Linked DNA regions of Homo sapiens: region 2 is linked to region 1. A link means that fine-mapping ties the variant in region 1 to the expression of a gene that starts in the linked region. Tissue or cell type: whole blood. Region 1 holds a variant in brackets; the other region holds the start of a gene. All regions are shown on one strand. Distances are from middle to middle.

Region 1 (7,913 bases):
AGCTGTGCTTAAGCTGACAAAGAGGAACAGTTAGCAGGGTGGCCTGGTGAAAATCAACCCAGATCAAGATAAACACCAAGGACAGTCGTTCAGGTTTCATTTTTAAGGTGGTGTAGCACTGAAGGGCTATGTGTCTGATGACCAGATGAAGGGATCAACCCAGCTGCTTCACTGAGAAGAACAAGAAAAACACATTATTTGCGTTAGGCTTGCCTTTGACATTGAACAACAAACAGACATCAAAACCCTTCTCTAATGGCAAGTCTTTCTCAATGCTTCTCCAGAGATCTTTTCAGTCATGCTTTCTGCTCAAACATCTGGGACTGTGTCAGACCGCGTTCATCAGTGGTGGCAAACTTCTGGTTCATGGGTAGGACACAGGATGCAGGGACATTTTGCCAGGGCTGCACTGAGTTTTTAAAAAACATTTAAGATAGTTTCCAGTATTTAAAAACTGAGAGGTTTCATGCAAAAATCCTGATACCCAACTTGTCTTGACAAATCACAAGATGTGGCAATACTGACAAGAAGGGTTAGATTTGGGCAGCCGTTGTTCATTTCAGCTAGACAAGGATGCATCAACTCACACAAACCTCTGCCTGGTTTTATGCATAGGTGTTACCTGCTTCATATGTGAAAGCATTTAAATTGTTGACAAACTGCTCTGACCATTTTGACAACTGGTTCAAAGCAGGGAATTACAGCCATCATTTATTGAGTGCCATAATATGGGCAGACAGCATTCTAAGCTCTCTCCGTGTACAAACTCATTTATCCCTCCGACAACTCCATAAACTCCACAAACTACAAAAGGGAAACTGAATCAAGAGAAATTCAGTGATTTACCGGGGGTCACGCAAGTAGGAAGTGCTAGAGATACGAGGAGAGCCAAAGAGGCTTGACTCCAGATCCCGATGCCTAATTTCTAATTTACCCTGCCTTTAAGATTAGCTTGACTTTGTGATTCCTCTCAGGGTTGATTACCTGGTCAGTTCTAGCCTCGCAAGTATTTCTCATCATATGTACCTTGCACATACAGGTAGATACATGATACAAGCCATGATATGTATGTATATATCCTGATGATCAGATTAAATATTTATTCATCCGCTCAACATCTGAGGGGCCTAAAGAAACAAGAAAATTAGCTACAGACATTGGCAGCCGTTGGGTAGAAATGAGCCGTAGCCTGTTCTGTGAGGAGGTGGCTGTGAAGGGTGTGGAGAGGAGATGGATGATGTGGCTGTCAGGAAGACCGCGAGCTCCTGAACCTCACTGGCTTTTTGGACTTGAGCTGTGCTCTGATCCAAACCACACACTGGGCTCAAGCTTTCCTGATTGATCTCAGAGTCTTCTTTCTCTGCTCAGGTTCCTCGTGACTATTTCAGGCCAGTAACTCCCAGACCATCCTCCACAGCCACAGCTTCATCCAAACTTGGATTTCCCCCAAACAGCCTTCCCTGGGGTTCATCGCATCTTTCTTGCTTCCTCTGAGATATCTTTTCTCTTCTCTGAAGGCTCTTTTATTAATAAGACCTGAAGGCTGAAATCATCCTTTTTCTTTCTAACAAAATAAACTACTTAGATATTATTTGTTTTATTCCATTTCAGAATATTCCCACTTTGAGAGTATTTTGTTGTTGTTGTCTGAGGCTTTTTGTTATTGTTTGTATAATGAAGCCCAGGCTGAAGACACTGTGGCGTCCCCAAGGCACTGCCTCTCAGCCCTGGAATTTTCCTTCAGCCTCAGCCAGCCACGCCCTCGGCTTCCTGTGGGCCCTGGCCTGAGAGCCCCTGCATCTGGAGGGCTGCTCGCCTCACATAACCACCTCCTTGCTGAGGCTCCAGGCTGGGCCTTTCTGGGAACCATAAATACCCAAATTCCCATGCTCCTCCCCAGACACTCTCAGAACCCCGGTCTCCTTGGAAAGTATTTCCTATCCTTATTTTCCAGGACTTCATAATTTAAATGGATTATGTTTCAGGGGAGGTGCAATTGATATCTTCAGAAATCAAAACCTTCTGGGGGAAAATTTACAAAATGAGGACTCCTATAACACCATATTTGTCTCACCTTTCCCTTGATTTTTATTTTTTACTTTGAGTACAAGGTACTGTCACTGTTATGGACTGAATGTCTGTGTCTCCTCCAAAACTCATGTATTGAAGTCTTACTTCAATATGATGATATGGTTTGGCTGTGTTCCCGCCCAAATCTCACCTTGAATTGTAGCTCCCATAATTCCCATATGTTGTGGGAGGGACATAGTTGGAGATAACTGAATCACGGAGGTGGTTCCCCCCATACTAATCTCATGGTAGTGAATAAGTCCCCCGAGATCTGATGATTTTATAAGGGGATTCCCCTTTCGCTTAGCTCTCATTCTGTCTTGTCTGCTGCCATGTAAGACGTGCCTCTTGCCTTCCACCATGATCATGAAGCCTCCCCAGCCATGTGGAACTGTGAGTCCATTAAACCTCTTTTTCTTTATAAATTACCCTGTCTTGGGTATGTCTTTATCAGCTGTATGAAAACAGACTAATACACAGCAGGTGAGGCCTTTGGGAGGTAGTTAAGTCTTTAGGGTAGAGCCCCCATGATGGTATTAGTGCCCCTATAAGAAGAAAAAGAGACACCAGAGTTTCCTCTCAGCCATGTGAGGGTACAGCAAGAGCAAGAAGGCAGCTATCTGCCACCCAAAGAGAGAGCCCTCACAAGGAACTAAATCTGACAGACCCTTGATCTTAGACCTACCAGCCTGTAAACTGTGAGTTTAAGCTATGGTTTAAGCTGCCTGGTCTATGGTATTTTGTTATAGCAGCCTAAGCTGACTAAGTTACCAACCGCCAAAACCCTTAGAGGTTAGGAAATCCTTTGAATTTCAATATGCTAGAATTAAGCTCCACAAAAGCAAGGATCTTTGTTTTGTTCACTGATATATCTCAAACTTTTAGCATTTCATAGGCACTCAATAACAATTTTCTGAAAAGAAGAAAGATCTCATTATTTAAGAACACACATATATATATTTAGAGATGGGGGTCTGTCTGTGTTGTCTAAGCTGGAGTGCAGTGTCTGTTCACAGGCACAATCATAGCTCACTGCAGCCTCAAACTCCTGGGCTCA[A/G]GTTATTACCTCAGCCTCCCAAATAGCTGGAACTACAGGTGCACACCACCATGCCTGGTAAGAACGATTATTATAGACTAGTAAATACATGAGAACTCACTGGTATAGCTCAATCACTATAAACATTTAAATGATCTTATCTATAACAATTTCCTTGGCAAGAAATAAAATTTTCTCTTCAACCTGAGTCACATTGTGAATTTAAATTATTTTTAAGATCTATTCTACTCCTTATTTTACTAAATTTCAAGTAACAAAGATACCTCCAACAAAGAAAGAAAAATACAGGAATACAAAAATTAAGAGTGCTCATTTTGATCCTGAACATTAAATTCTTTTTTTAAAAAAAAATATTTCTATATAACAAAAGTTACATGAATTTTCAAGATAAAAAACCTTTTGTCAATGCTTAGGGCAAATTACATAATAAAATATATTTTTTGCTTAATATCACTAATTCCAAATCATTCCTGAAAGTTTTCTGGTAATAAAGTCCTTTTCTTTCCTCTAGTAAAACCAAGGTTTAAGCAAAAGGCTATGTTTAATATCTTTATGTTGACAGTGTCTGGTAGATGATAGATATTCAATAAATGTTTGTTGAAGGAATGAATTTAGTTACTTTGTTATAGGGCTAATAGCATCATATTTTGAGAACCAAATTTGACCAATGGCTAGTAACATTGGCATACAAATGCCATGAGCTACAGTCTATCCCCGGAACATGTTATTGCCCCATGTTTCCAAAGGAGAGCTAAAAAGTTCAGCCTAGTTGACCTTGTTTTGCAGAAAATGGGGTTGTGAGAGGTCTTCGATCTGAGAGAGAGAGGGGAGATTGTGGGCAAGATGGAATAGACTAGACAGTTCCCTAGGTTTCCTGAGAGCACCAATTGGGGTTGGTATTGAATAGAGTTGACAAGCTTGTTTGATCTGAAAAGGGACATTGATATCAGTGGCAGAACCTAGGAATCTGCATTTTTAAACATGTATCCTGAGATAGATGTTTTGTAAATATGGTCAGAATTCTCCACCTTTCCTGAATCCATGCCACTTTCAATGTATCATCCCTGCTCCTCTCCCAAAGTTGTGAAGTCTGTTTCCCCACCCTTGAATTTGGGCTGGTCTTGCGACTTGCTCTGACCAAAAGAGTGTGGCAGAAGTAACACTGGGCTGGTGCTGTGCTAGACCTCAGGAGGTCTTGCTTGCCTCTACTTATGCTCTTGTTTGCTGCCACTGTGTGAGCAGGCCCAATCTAGTCTGCTGAATTATTCAAGACATGTGGCCCTTGTCACCCCAGTCAATAGCCAGTTAGCTATCAGACATATGAGTGAGACCATCCAACTGTGCCTGAGAAATGACTGCAGACACAGCAAGCCCAACCAAGATCAGCCAGGCCAAGCTGACTGGCAACTACTCAGTTGGCAGAAGTGCAGTCAGCCTACAGATTTGTAGGCAATAACAGATGGTCACGTTGAGCAACTGAGTTTTGAGGCTAACCAATGCACACATTAAATGATTTCTACAATCAGGCAACCTTAGGAAGCATTAGCATAGATGATATCTGCAGCTTTCTTGGAATAAAGAGATACATTTGAATGCCAAGCTCTATAAATCCCCAGTATTTAGCTATTCTGCCTCATTAATGAAGACAAGTAAAAATAAAATTAAGAAAATCGTAACTAAATTTTAACAGCTTAAAAAATCCACCAAAAGCCATCCAAAAATCACCAAGAACTATGATCTTCTAGGGAGGCACAGGGTTAGGTTATGAAAATAACCAAAGCCCTTGGGAGTGTGGCCTATGATTGCCATGAACTCTCTAAAATACTCTGTTTAGGTTTCTCCTCACAAATTCAATTAATATATGAAGCAAACAATGGTTCTTAATTTTGTTTTTCCTAGACTAACAGGTGATGGTACAGTAATGATTTTCAAGTAGCATAATTTGAGGAGTCTGGAAATAGATGCTGAATTCTTCATTTTCTACCTATGGGCACATTTTATACTCCTTCTAGTCCTTTGCCCAATAATAACACTGTATTTTAGTTGATGTTTCCAGATTAATGGATTGATGACTAGACAGGAAATCCTGTGCCAGTCCACAGGGCAAGTTGCCTTAGCTATTTATTAATCACCAAAAAGTGAACTGCACTGAGTCACAGCAGCAAATTAGAGAGGAAATCTTAGTTATATTGATAATTTTTAATTTGCCCCTAGGTCAGCTAGAATGCATAAGGGAAAGTGTTATAGGAACAGTATGTCTAAAAGAATACCAGAAGTCAAGTTGTTTGAGCAATCTCCTTCTTTGGAGACTAATGAATGAGTTACAGTAATGATCCTTATGTTCTGGCAACAATGAAAAAGAACTACTTTTTCAATTAGCACATTGATTAGAGGTTTCATAAGTACATTTATTCTCCTTTTATCAGCTAATAGGTTTTCTTATTGGGAAAACAATTCTGTCATGGTCTTACCTATTATAATGTTTTATTAAGACTCGTTACATTTTGAAATAATAAAAAGAAAATAGCACAAAAAAAATGATTCAAAAAGTAACCTTATTTTGAACAAATTTGCTTGACCAATGTATAAACTCACAACAAAGAAGAGAAAGGGGAGACCATAAACACTCAATATTTCATTCAAGATTTCAATAGATTTTTAGAAAAATGGAAATCATATGCAGGAGTTGTGAATGATCCAAGTGGAAAAAACAATAGTCAAGAATAGGTAGAGATAGGTGAGTGATATGGTTTGGTTGTGATCTGCCACAAGAAAACTCATGTTGAAATTTGACTCCCAAGGTGGCAGTGTTGGGAGGTGGGGCCTAGTGGGAGATGTTTGGGTTATGGGACAGGATCTGCCATGAATAGGTTAATGCCATCTTGCGGGATTAAGTTCTTACTATGATGGGACTGGATTAGTTACCTAGAAAGCAGATAGTCCCTTCTTGTGTTTGTTCTCTCTACACATGTCCTCTTCCTTCCATGTTTCTGCTGTGAGTTGAAGCATAACAAGAGCCTCATCAGAAGGGCTGCCCAACCTTGGACTTTGAAGCCACCAGGTTCACTAGCCAAATAAACCTCTTTTCTTTATAAATTACTCAGTCTCAGGTACTCTGTGATAGCAACGTTGAACTAAGACAGTGAGCATCTGTGAAAGGAAATGATCTGCCCTAAAGAACTACATGAAGCTTGAATTTGAGGATTCTAGGTACAACAGAGGGTCAGGGTGAGTCATGGGACTAAATATGGAACAAGGGCATAATTGAAGTCCATAGACTAACAGACCAAGCTAAACTTCACCCGGAAGCAGATGCCCAACAGACAGGTTTTTGCTCTTCCAACAAGGAGAGTTGTTTTCTTAAAAACTGAAAGAAACATTCAAAAGAATTAAGGCCTGATTGTAGGAGGTCGTATCCCCTAAAAATGATCTTCACATTCTCATATTAGGGTTTCCAAAACATAAAGACGGATCACCACTCTTTTATTAGACAATACAAGCTTCATCCTTCTTCATAGAGCTGCTTTTCCTAAAAACCCTCCAGGGAAATTTGACGTCTTAACTACACACATTTATTTCTTTAAAATTTTAAGTTGTTTTTATACACTTGGAAATTAAAAACTAAAGTAACCTTCTTATTACATTTTCTACCATCTTGGAGGCCATTTTCTATTCATGTTTATAATGTTATATTGATTACAAACTATAACATTAATAATTTTTTCTGACTTAAAAATATCCCTAAAGTAACTTCTTAAGGATGTGCTTACCAGATTGATCTTCACAGTGCTAAATATTATAGCAAAAGAAAAAGTGAAAAAACAGGCAATCTGGGAATGATTAAATAAATCCCTTGCACAAAATGAAATGCTATGCAGCTAGCCAAATTTTAGTATAAAATTTATTATTTAAAAATGTTTATCATATGTTATTCAGTGAAAAGGATGTTAGAAAATATGACAAAAGGCACTATTACATTTTTTATTTCTTATACTTAAATATCTAGATATGGATTTAAAAAAATGCCTGAAAACATATTCAACAAAATTATAACAGCAACTGGCCCTGGGTGGCAGGATTATGGGTAGTTTGTGTTTTCTTTTTCTCTTTTTTACACACATTTTTAAAATTCTACATAAACATGTAATATTTAAGTAATTTTATAATTTTATTCTTGAAGCAATCTTACTGTTCTTTTTTCTTTTTCTTTTTTTCCATTCTTATTCTCTTCTATAGAAAAGAACAAGAAAATATATATATATATCTGTATATCTATCTATCTATCTACCTATCTATCTATCTAAAGCTATATAAATGGCAGATCTATATAGCAATAGATAGATAGATAGATAGATAGACCTAGAAAAATCTCTTCTGGACATTGGCCTAGGCAAAGAATTCATGACTAAGACCCTAAAGGCAAATTGTACCCAATATGTAGTTTTTTATCCCTCACCCACCTCCCACCCTCCCTCCATCTGAGTCTCCAATGTCCATTAACCACTCTGTATGTCTTTGTGTACTCATAGCTTAGCTCCAATTTATAAGTGAGAACATACAGTATTTGGTTTTCCATTCCTGAGTTACTTCACTTAAAATAATGGCCTTCAGCTATATCCAAGTTTCTGCAAAAGGCATTATTTTTCTTTTATGGCTGAGTAGTTTTATTAGTCCATTCTCACACTGCTGATAAAGACATACCCAAGACTGGGCAATTTAGAAAAGAAAAAGGTTTAATGGACTTACTGTTCCACATGACTGAAGAAGCCTCAAAATCATGGTGGAA
Region 2 (7,913 bases), 85 kb after region 1:
GCAGCTGGGCTGTTGTTTGAAGGGGTCAGTATCACAACGACTCTCAGAACCTGGCTGTTACATCCTATTTGGTCACATATAAGTAGAAAATAATACCCAGCCCAGCACTTAGTAATGTCTTTTCTCTGAAGCTCTTGGTGAAAACTAGTGACGACAATAGCAAAGTGCAAACTGATGCTCTGGTTTAATCTGTTTCAGAAGTTACAGAAAGAGGAAATTGAATTTATTTGAAAGCCAACTTTAAAGGGAAATAAAAAGATAAATGTCTTTTCTAAGCTAAAAAAAAAAACCCCAAAGCAATGCAACAGTTTCAGAAACTAATTGTATAAGTGTACTGTTATTACCAGTCTCTTTTCCCCTGGTTGAAACAATCTTCCATAACAACATTTGCAACTATAATATTGCGTAACAAGCACTGTTACGGTGTAATGTCTTTTAAATAGGGGTTAGATAGGAGAGAAGTGAGTATCCATTATCTTATTATCATAACATCCGTCAGTCTTCCAGACAAAACACCATCATCCCACTGGGAGCTAAGGACGGTTTTTACTTAAACACAAGGTCATACTGTTTGGGTGCATGGGAGAGCAGTGGAGGTGGGGTGGGGGATTTTCATTTATTCCAAGGCACTCAACGCTGGACTTCTTCCAAGAGAGGAAACAAGACTAAATAGATCATTTGTTTTATTCTGTTTGGGCAGTTCTTGCATTTCTCCCAACTGTGGCTTATGGACACAAAGCCAAACTCAGAGCCTAGCTGGAGCTGGCTAAACTCCAGGTCAAAGGAATAAACAATTTGAAGCTCTATTTGCGGATTAAGGCAAGCCACACAATTGCAGGACAAAATGAAATTTCACTGTGAATGTGAAGTCACAAAGAAACAGCAGGTAGAAGTGTTAAATGATTTGGATTTCTCAAACAAAACCGAGGTAGAGGTAGGAAGGAAATGTGGATTGGAAGTACACATCTATGAGAAATGCATCTCAAAAAGGGTCAAATATTGGAGAATACTGGAGGAGGAACCTGCTGCTTGTGGGGACCAACTGAGGTAGGAACACAACATCTTTGGAACAGCCCCTCACGGTGGGTGTCAAAGAGCCTGGCCATTTGAGTGTCATGGAAAGTGTAGCTTGGGTCATTACTTCTGTCTCCTCTTGCTGGCATCAGGAAGGCTGGCCAACACCAGCCATGCACACTCAGTAACAAGTATAGTTGGTATTCCCAGCATATCCCACTGGCAGAATGGGTCTTTGTCTTCAATCACTTTCCTTTGGGAGACCTCATCGTTGGCCTCATCGCATGTCTAGCGAGAGAGAAGGGAACATTAGTGTCTAGGCTTACTTTAGCATATTAGTTAGCACTGCATCCACTGTGATTTCAGAATTGACAAGTCACGTACAGTATTGCTCAAAATGTTCCTTCGACACTACAGGAAAGAATGGGGAAGTAAATGTCAGTCATTAAAGTGTAACCCAAAGAGGTAAGTCCTAAGGACTTCTAACGTCTTTCATAGATGAAGAATTTGGACCCTATTTACACTCTAATTGGGAAAGCAAAAAAGGCTTGTTGTTGTTTTTTCTTGAAAAACATTGGCTCCTTCAAGACAAGAGACTGAAACTCTTCAAAATAGTAATTTTGTGCATTTCTCTCACTGGTTTGAGTAACTTTAGTAAAAATTTAAAGTTACACATAATTAACCAAAGTGTGTGAGATAGGAATCAACGTATCAATGTTAATATCCTGATTGTGATATTATACAATGGTTTTGCAAAATGTTACCATGAGGAAGACTTGGCAAAGTGTAAAAGAGACCTCTCTGAATCATTTCTTAACAACTGCATGCCAGCCTACAATTACCTCTATTACAAATTTTAATTTAGAAATGTGATTGAGACAGAAATGGATGCAGGGATTCTGGCACATTTTCATAATAATCTGGCTTCACCCACATTTCCCAGTTATTTCTCCAGTAGTTTCTTGAATGACTCCCTTCCATCTGGAAGAGGATACTCCCAGCTTTTCAAACACACTGAACGAGCTCATTCACACCTGTGGGCTTTCCCCCCTCCTTTGAATTGTTCCCAGCTCCAGCCCACACCGCCCTGACTGGACCAAGCACAATACTGTCACTGAAACAGTTCTTAGCATGTCTAAAAGTCACTTGGCTAGTAGTTCATCCACTCGTCAACAAAATTTATTGAGTAACTGCTATATGTGTGGTATGGCTCTAGGCACTAGGGATAGAGTGAGTTGGAAACAATATTGAAATTAGTTTCTCTTCCCTGGTCTCTGGGAGTATATTCCAATGAGAGAGAGTAGAAGAAAACTAGCAAGAAACAAGGTAAAAAAAAAATCAATTCATGATGAGGGTTATGAAGGAAGTCATAGGTTAGAGGGGATAAAGTGACTTTATCTCAAGTGGTCAGGGGAGGCTTCCTAGGGGAGAGGACATTTGAGTTGTGACCTCAAGTGTAAGGATGCAGACAACATAGAAGATCCTGGGACAAAAAGCATTTCAGGCACAGAGAATAAGAAAGTTACCCTGTAACTGAATATAAATATTTGGTATGACTGTAAAATAATTAAACAGATGCTCATTTTTGTAGACTGTTTGCTCCTTATTTTAGGACCAAGCCTCCCATAGCCTGTTTCCCTCTATGAGAGACTGAGAACACCCTTAGGCTGGTCCAGATTTTACACTTTTCAGAGCAACCCCTTCCCCAACACACACGTGCACACTCTGGCACGGCCACCTGCATGCCAAGGGGTGACTGCAGGCTGATCTTCCAAGTGGCTCTCATCAGTAGCTGTACCCTTAATCCAGGGCTGTGTATAGGGAGATTTACATTTCTTCCTCGCTGTTGGGGCCGTCTGCCTGCTAGCGACGATTCTACACTAACGGCTACATAAATTACTGTCATTAAAGTTGGGTCCTTGGGTCCCCAGAAACCTAACTAGAGGCAAAGGAGGAACCAACTAAGAGAGGTCCAGGTAACAGAGCCCGGAGCGGGACGGTCATTTGTTGCAGGCCCCTGGGGTATGTGCCTGTCTATCGCGCACCGGGTCCCAGCAGCAGTGGTTACCGGCTGAGAAGGGCTGGGTTCCCAGGACGCTGCGGGTACCTCATGCTATCACCATAGCCGGGAATCCAGTTTTCTGGTTCCCCTCGTCTGTATTTGCCTAAGGCGACTTGCCGCCGTTCCTCTGTCCCCTAGGCAGGGAGAAGTCAGCTCTAGGACACCCTGCAAAACGCCTCGAGGGGTTATCTGCCCCTTCCCGGCCGCGTCCTGGCACCGTTTCCCCATCACCCGGAGGACTGAGCGCTGTCTCAGGGCGCCCTCTGTCTCTTCCAGGGGGCAGCCAAGACGACATGCCCTGCGTCTCAGGGACGCGGTACGAGCCCTGGTATTCCCCCCGCCACCTCACACACCCCCATCCGGGAGACCCACGTGCAGCTGGGCCCGGGCTGGCGCCGCACCTCGGGGTCTGCGCGTCTCCCCGGCGCGTTCCGGGCGCAGCCCCACGACACGGACCCCTGGCGGGGCGGCATCCGAGAAGTCGCAGGCGGAGAGGGGGCGTCCTGGAGGCCGGGCGCGGGGACGCTGCGGCCCGCGGCCACACAAAGGAGGCGGCGGGAAGGCGGGGCAAGGCGGGCCGGGGGCGGGGGCGGCAGGAAGGGGCGGGGGCCCGCGCGGCGCCGCCGATAAAGCCCCCGCCGCCGCGGCAGCCAGCTTGCGCTGTGGGGCTGCCCGGGCTGCGCGGCGTCTGCAGGCGCCACCGCTGCCTCTTTCCGGCTGTGACCCTCCTCGCCGCCGCCGCTTGGCTGCGTCCTCCGACTCCCCGCGCCGCCGAGACCAGGCTCCCGCTCCGGTTGCGGCCGCACCGCCCTCCGCGGCCGCCCCCTGGGGATCCAGCGAGCGCGGTGAGTACAGGCTGCGCGGTGAGTCCCGGGCGCGGCCGGCGCTGCCCTCGGCGGGGGACGCTCCCCGGGGCTCCGCGCGCCACCGGCCCTGCTCCCTGACCTTGCGCCCGGCCGGGAAGCTGCGGGGCCAGCGGGACCCTGGGGCGCCGACGTCGGGGAGCAGAGAACTTTCTCAGCCTCCCGCGGGCCGCCTTGGCCGGGGCTGGGTGCTCGCCGGGCATCCCGGTCCCGCCCGCCGGGAGCCCCGAGCGGGACCCGGGCAGGGCAAGGCGGGGCCGCCCCGGGGTGGCGTCCAGTGATACCCGCAGCTGGGAGCACCGGGGCCGGCGTGGCTCCTGCCCGGCCATCCGAGCCGGCCCTGACCCTGAACCTGAGGTTTCCAGCTGCTCGCCGGCAACCCCTACCCCGGACTTAGGCTGCGCGCCGCCGGATGGGGAGAGACTGGCGCACTCTTACTTGTTACCTCTGCCTGGGCAGAGGGAGGTGACGCGCGGTGTGGGGAAAGCCTTTAACTTGGCCTCTGGCAGCCGATTTAACCCGAGCGAGCAGGTCTTTGCTATTTTCATCATCTGTAGAAACGGGAGTTGCGAGGCGGATGAGTGACTGCAGGTAAAATGAAAGTACGGTACTCAGAAATTCTGGAAGGAATTAGGCATTTAATGTGTCCACAAACTGAGCGGGGAAGGAAGGCTTCTATTACATAAGACAGCACTCCACCTTCAGGTATTATGGAAGATGCTGTTGAAGGTTTTAGTGTTTTAATGAACGAAACACATTCTTTGTGTGTGTGTCTCTGGAGAAATCTCGAATGCTGCTGTCTTGCTTTGGCTACTTTGCAGGGGACGTTCTTATATTTAGCATCAGCATAAAAAGGTGTTCGAAGGTGTGACTTCCTCTTTCAAGCCAAGAAGCCGTTTATTTGTCTGAATTGTTGTGGAACAATATATGTGATAATTGTGTACTTTGAAGATTTTATATCAAAACTTGAGCACAGATAACTGGAAGAATTGTCAACATTGCTAATTTGTATATCCTAAACCACACTTCGAAAATTGAAGACAGTTTCAACACTATCTGAAGGTCTAAATCAGTACTTATTTGCTATTTGCAGTATTTCAATAGAAAAATTTTTGGCTATGCAAATGAAGGTACTAACCTGAGTAATCTAAGGTTTCTTTTAACCCCCAAATTTTGATTCTTTGTTAAAATAATGTTTGAAAATATCGTACCATGCAGGGCAATTACTGAAGGTCATGAAAATGTCATCGTATTTTATTCTAAAAACAAAAATGAATCTATGCAGAAAATTTCCGTGTCCCATGAACTTCATATTAGTTTAATTTTAAAAGTACTGTCTCCAAAAAAAGCTAATTTTCACTTCCACACAAGGGTGATTAAATACCAGTCAGAGATTGTTTGAGGTGGTAGAGTTGGAAATGAGGTGGTGACCTGGCCACGTCCCTGGGTGCATCTCAGCCTTGCTGTCCTCTTCCAGCCAGTTCTTTTCCCATCGCATGGGGACTTTGGCTCTTGGGCTATTTCTCCTCCTCTAGACCTAAAGTCCATGTGGGGGACGCTCTAGATGCGCACTTCCTTGACTGTCTCAAATCCAGTGTCTTCCATGTACTCCAGCTACCAAGTCCTCTAAGTACCTCCAAGTCTTGCCCTCTCTTGAGATGCTCAACTTCTGAAAACTCTTAGTGCCTCCAACCCGCAAGCTCCTTCCTTCCGGGTTGCAAACCGGACTCCCACTGTAATCTTCAATGCAAGCGATCTCCAATGCTTTTCCTCTTGCGGGTTTGGCAGGTGACTTTGTAGCCCATTCTACCAGGAGAATAGAGGTCATAAGTATCTCCTCACGTCCTCCCCCATCTCCCCTGTACAGACTTTTCTGTGTTTACCCAGTCATCCAATAAATCTTCTTAAGCATCTACTGTGTCTGGGTACTTTGTTGGATACTCATAGGTGGTAAATAGAGCAGATCCTTGCTCGCTTGAAACTGTCATTCTTGTGGGAGAAAACCAACTAAAAGCAAACATAATATGTTGTAAAATGTATGATAAATGAATAAGGTAGAATTATAAAGAAAAATCAAGTTAGACTGAGAACTTAGAGAAATATAGAGAGATGGCCTCCTTGGGGCAGTGACTAATGTCTCCAGCTGTGTCCTGAATCCCAACTCCCAGTGCCTCTCTCTCCTTGTGAGTGTTACTCCCTTTTCTTACTTTTATCTTCAGTCTCTCCCTGTGAGCTTTTTTCTTTTTTAGTAGTATTTTAAGAATGCCTTAACCTCCCTTGTCCCTGCATCCTCAGCTCACCTGTAGTGACAACCACGTCTCTCCAGGCTTCTTAAACTGGTCTGCCCTTCCTGTTCAGCTCTTTGCAAGCTGGCCAGAGTCTCCTCAAAGTTCAAGGCCTGTGACTTCCTGAACAAGCAATCTTTTTTTTTTTTTTTTAATTTTTATTAATATGCTTTAAGCTCTGGGGTACATGTGCAGAACGTGCAGGTTTGTTACATAGGTATACACGTGCCATGGTGGTTTGCTGCACCCATCAACCCATCACATTAGGTATTTCTCCTAATGCTATCCCTCCCCTACCTCACTCCCCGCCCCCCACCACAGGCCCCAGTGTGTGATGTTTCCCTCCCTGTGTCCCTGTGTTCTCATCTGAACAAGCAATCTTATGGATACCCACTAGGTTTCTCCGTGGCATTTGATGAGGTTCTTCTATTCCTTTCTGATGGTTTTTTTTTTTTTTTCCATCCCTGGTTGCCACCTTCTGGTTTTCCTTATTCCTCCCTGGCATCTCTGCTACCTCTTGGGGTTACCCAGGGTTCGCTGTCATCCCTTTTGTGCTCTGTGTATTTGGGTGAACCATGTTCCCACAGCTTCGACTCTCACCAATATGAAGCGAGTCCCAGATTGGCATGTTAAGCTAGCTTGAGCATGCTCCTGTGTTCCAATCAGTTACCTGCAGTCTGGTGCGCTTACCCGTGCCCTTTAGGCCAAAAAAACACCCCAAAATAAATCCAAAATTGATTTTAGTTTTCACCACCCACCCCATATCCGCTTCATTGTTAGCGAAGATTTGTCCGTTTTTTTTTGGCAGTGGTTCCACCGTTCATGGAGATGTTGGAGCAGGGGTCTCACGGTGATGCCAGGCTCCCGCACTGCCCACATGCAGGCTGTCACCAGATCCTGTTGCTTCTTCATGCTGTGAAATTCCACAAAGGTCCGCTCTAGTCACGCTGGCCTTGCCTTGCTTTAGAGCCCAAAAGTGGCAAAATGGTGGCCGGTGTGCCACTTCTAGCAGTAGGCAGCAGTGTTGTTGGCCTGAACAAAGTATATACAACTTGAGTTAATATTTAGAAATCTGGAGATGCCACTTGGATGTATAGCTTCTCCTAAAAGCCAGAAGACCTGGATGAGGCAGTGCGTGGTGGCTCATACCTGTAATCCCAGCACTGTGGGAGGCTGAACCAGGCGGATCACTTGAGGTCAGGAGTTCAAGACCAGCCTGATCAACATGGTAAAACCGCGTCTCTACTAAAAATACAAAAATTAGCTGCGCCTATAATCCCAGCTACTCGGGAGGCTGAGGCAGGAGAATCGCTTGAACCCGGGAGGCAGAGGTTGCAGTGAGCTGAGATGGCGCCACTGTTCTCGAGCCTGGGTGAAAGAGTGAGACTCTGTCTCAAAACAAAAACAAAAACAAAACAAAAAAAACCTGGAATAGGAAGCTTACATTCCCATGTGGCAAACCTCAGCTGCTGCTGGGTTTCCAGTGCCTGAATACACTGGAGGTAGGTTGCTTTCTGGTTCCCCCAGACCTGTGACCCTTGCTTATAGTGGCGTTCTGGCTCCCATGGGCTTCAGAGCTAGAGACCCTAGGCTGAGACGATCATCGACAGCCTGGGAATGCCTAGTGCTTACTGCACAGTGTCGTGCACCTCATGTTGCATCCCTTCTAACTCTCTTCCATGTTATTGC

Evidence for each region. PIP is the estimated chance that this variant, and not a neighbour inherited with it, causes the effect.
Region 2: SERPINE2 starts here. The variant in region 1 is fine-mapped to the expression of SERPINE2 in whole blood (Lepik 2017, PIP 0.95).

What each region holds. Positions count from the first base shown.
Region 1 is chr2:224,120,074-224,127,986 of GRCh38, reverse strand. No RefSeq gene overlaps it. Among named protein-coding and RNA genes, the nearest start is that of SERPINE2, 85 kb to the right of the region's middle. The variant A/G (reference allele first, on the strand shown) is at 3,128.
Region 2 is chr2:224,035,107-224,043,019 of GRCh38, reverse strand. SERPINE2 (serpin family E member 2) reads left to right here and starts at 3,734. Exons shown (of 9, transcript NM_001136528.2): 1 at 3,734-3,921. LOC124907991 (a long non-coding RNA gene) reads right to left here and starts at 3,618. Exons shown (of 2, transcript XR_007088103.1): 1 at 3,478-3,618; 2 at 528-1,302. RefSeq lists a silencer at 3,274-3,568.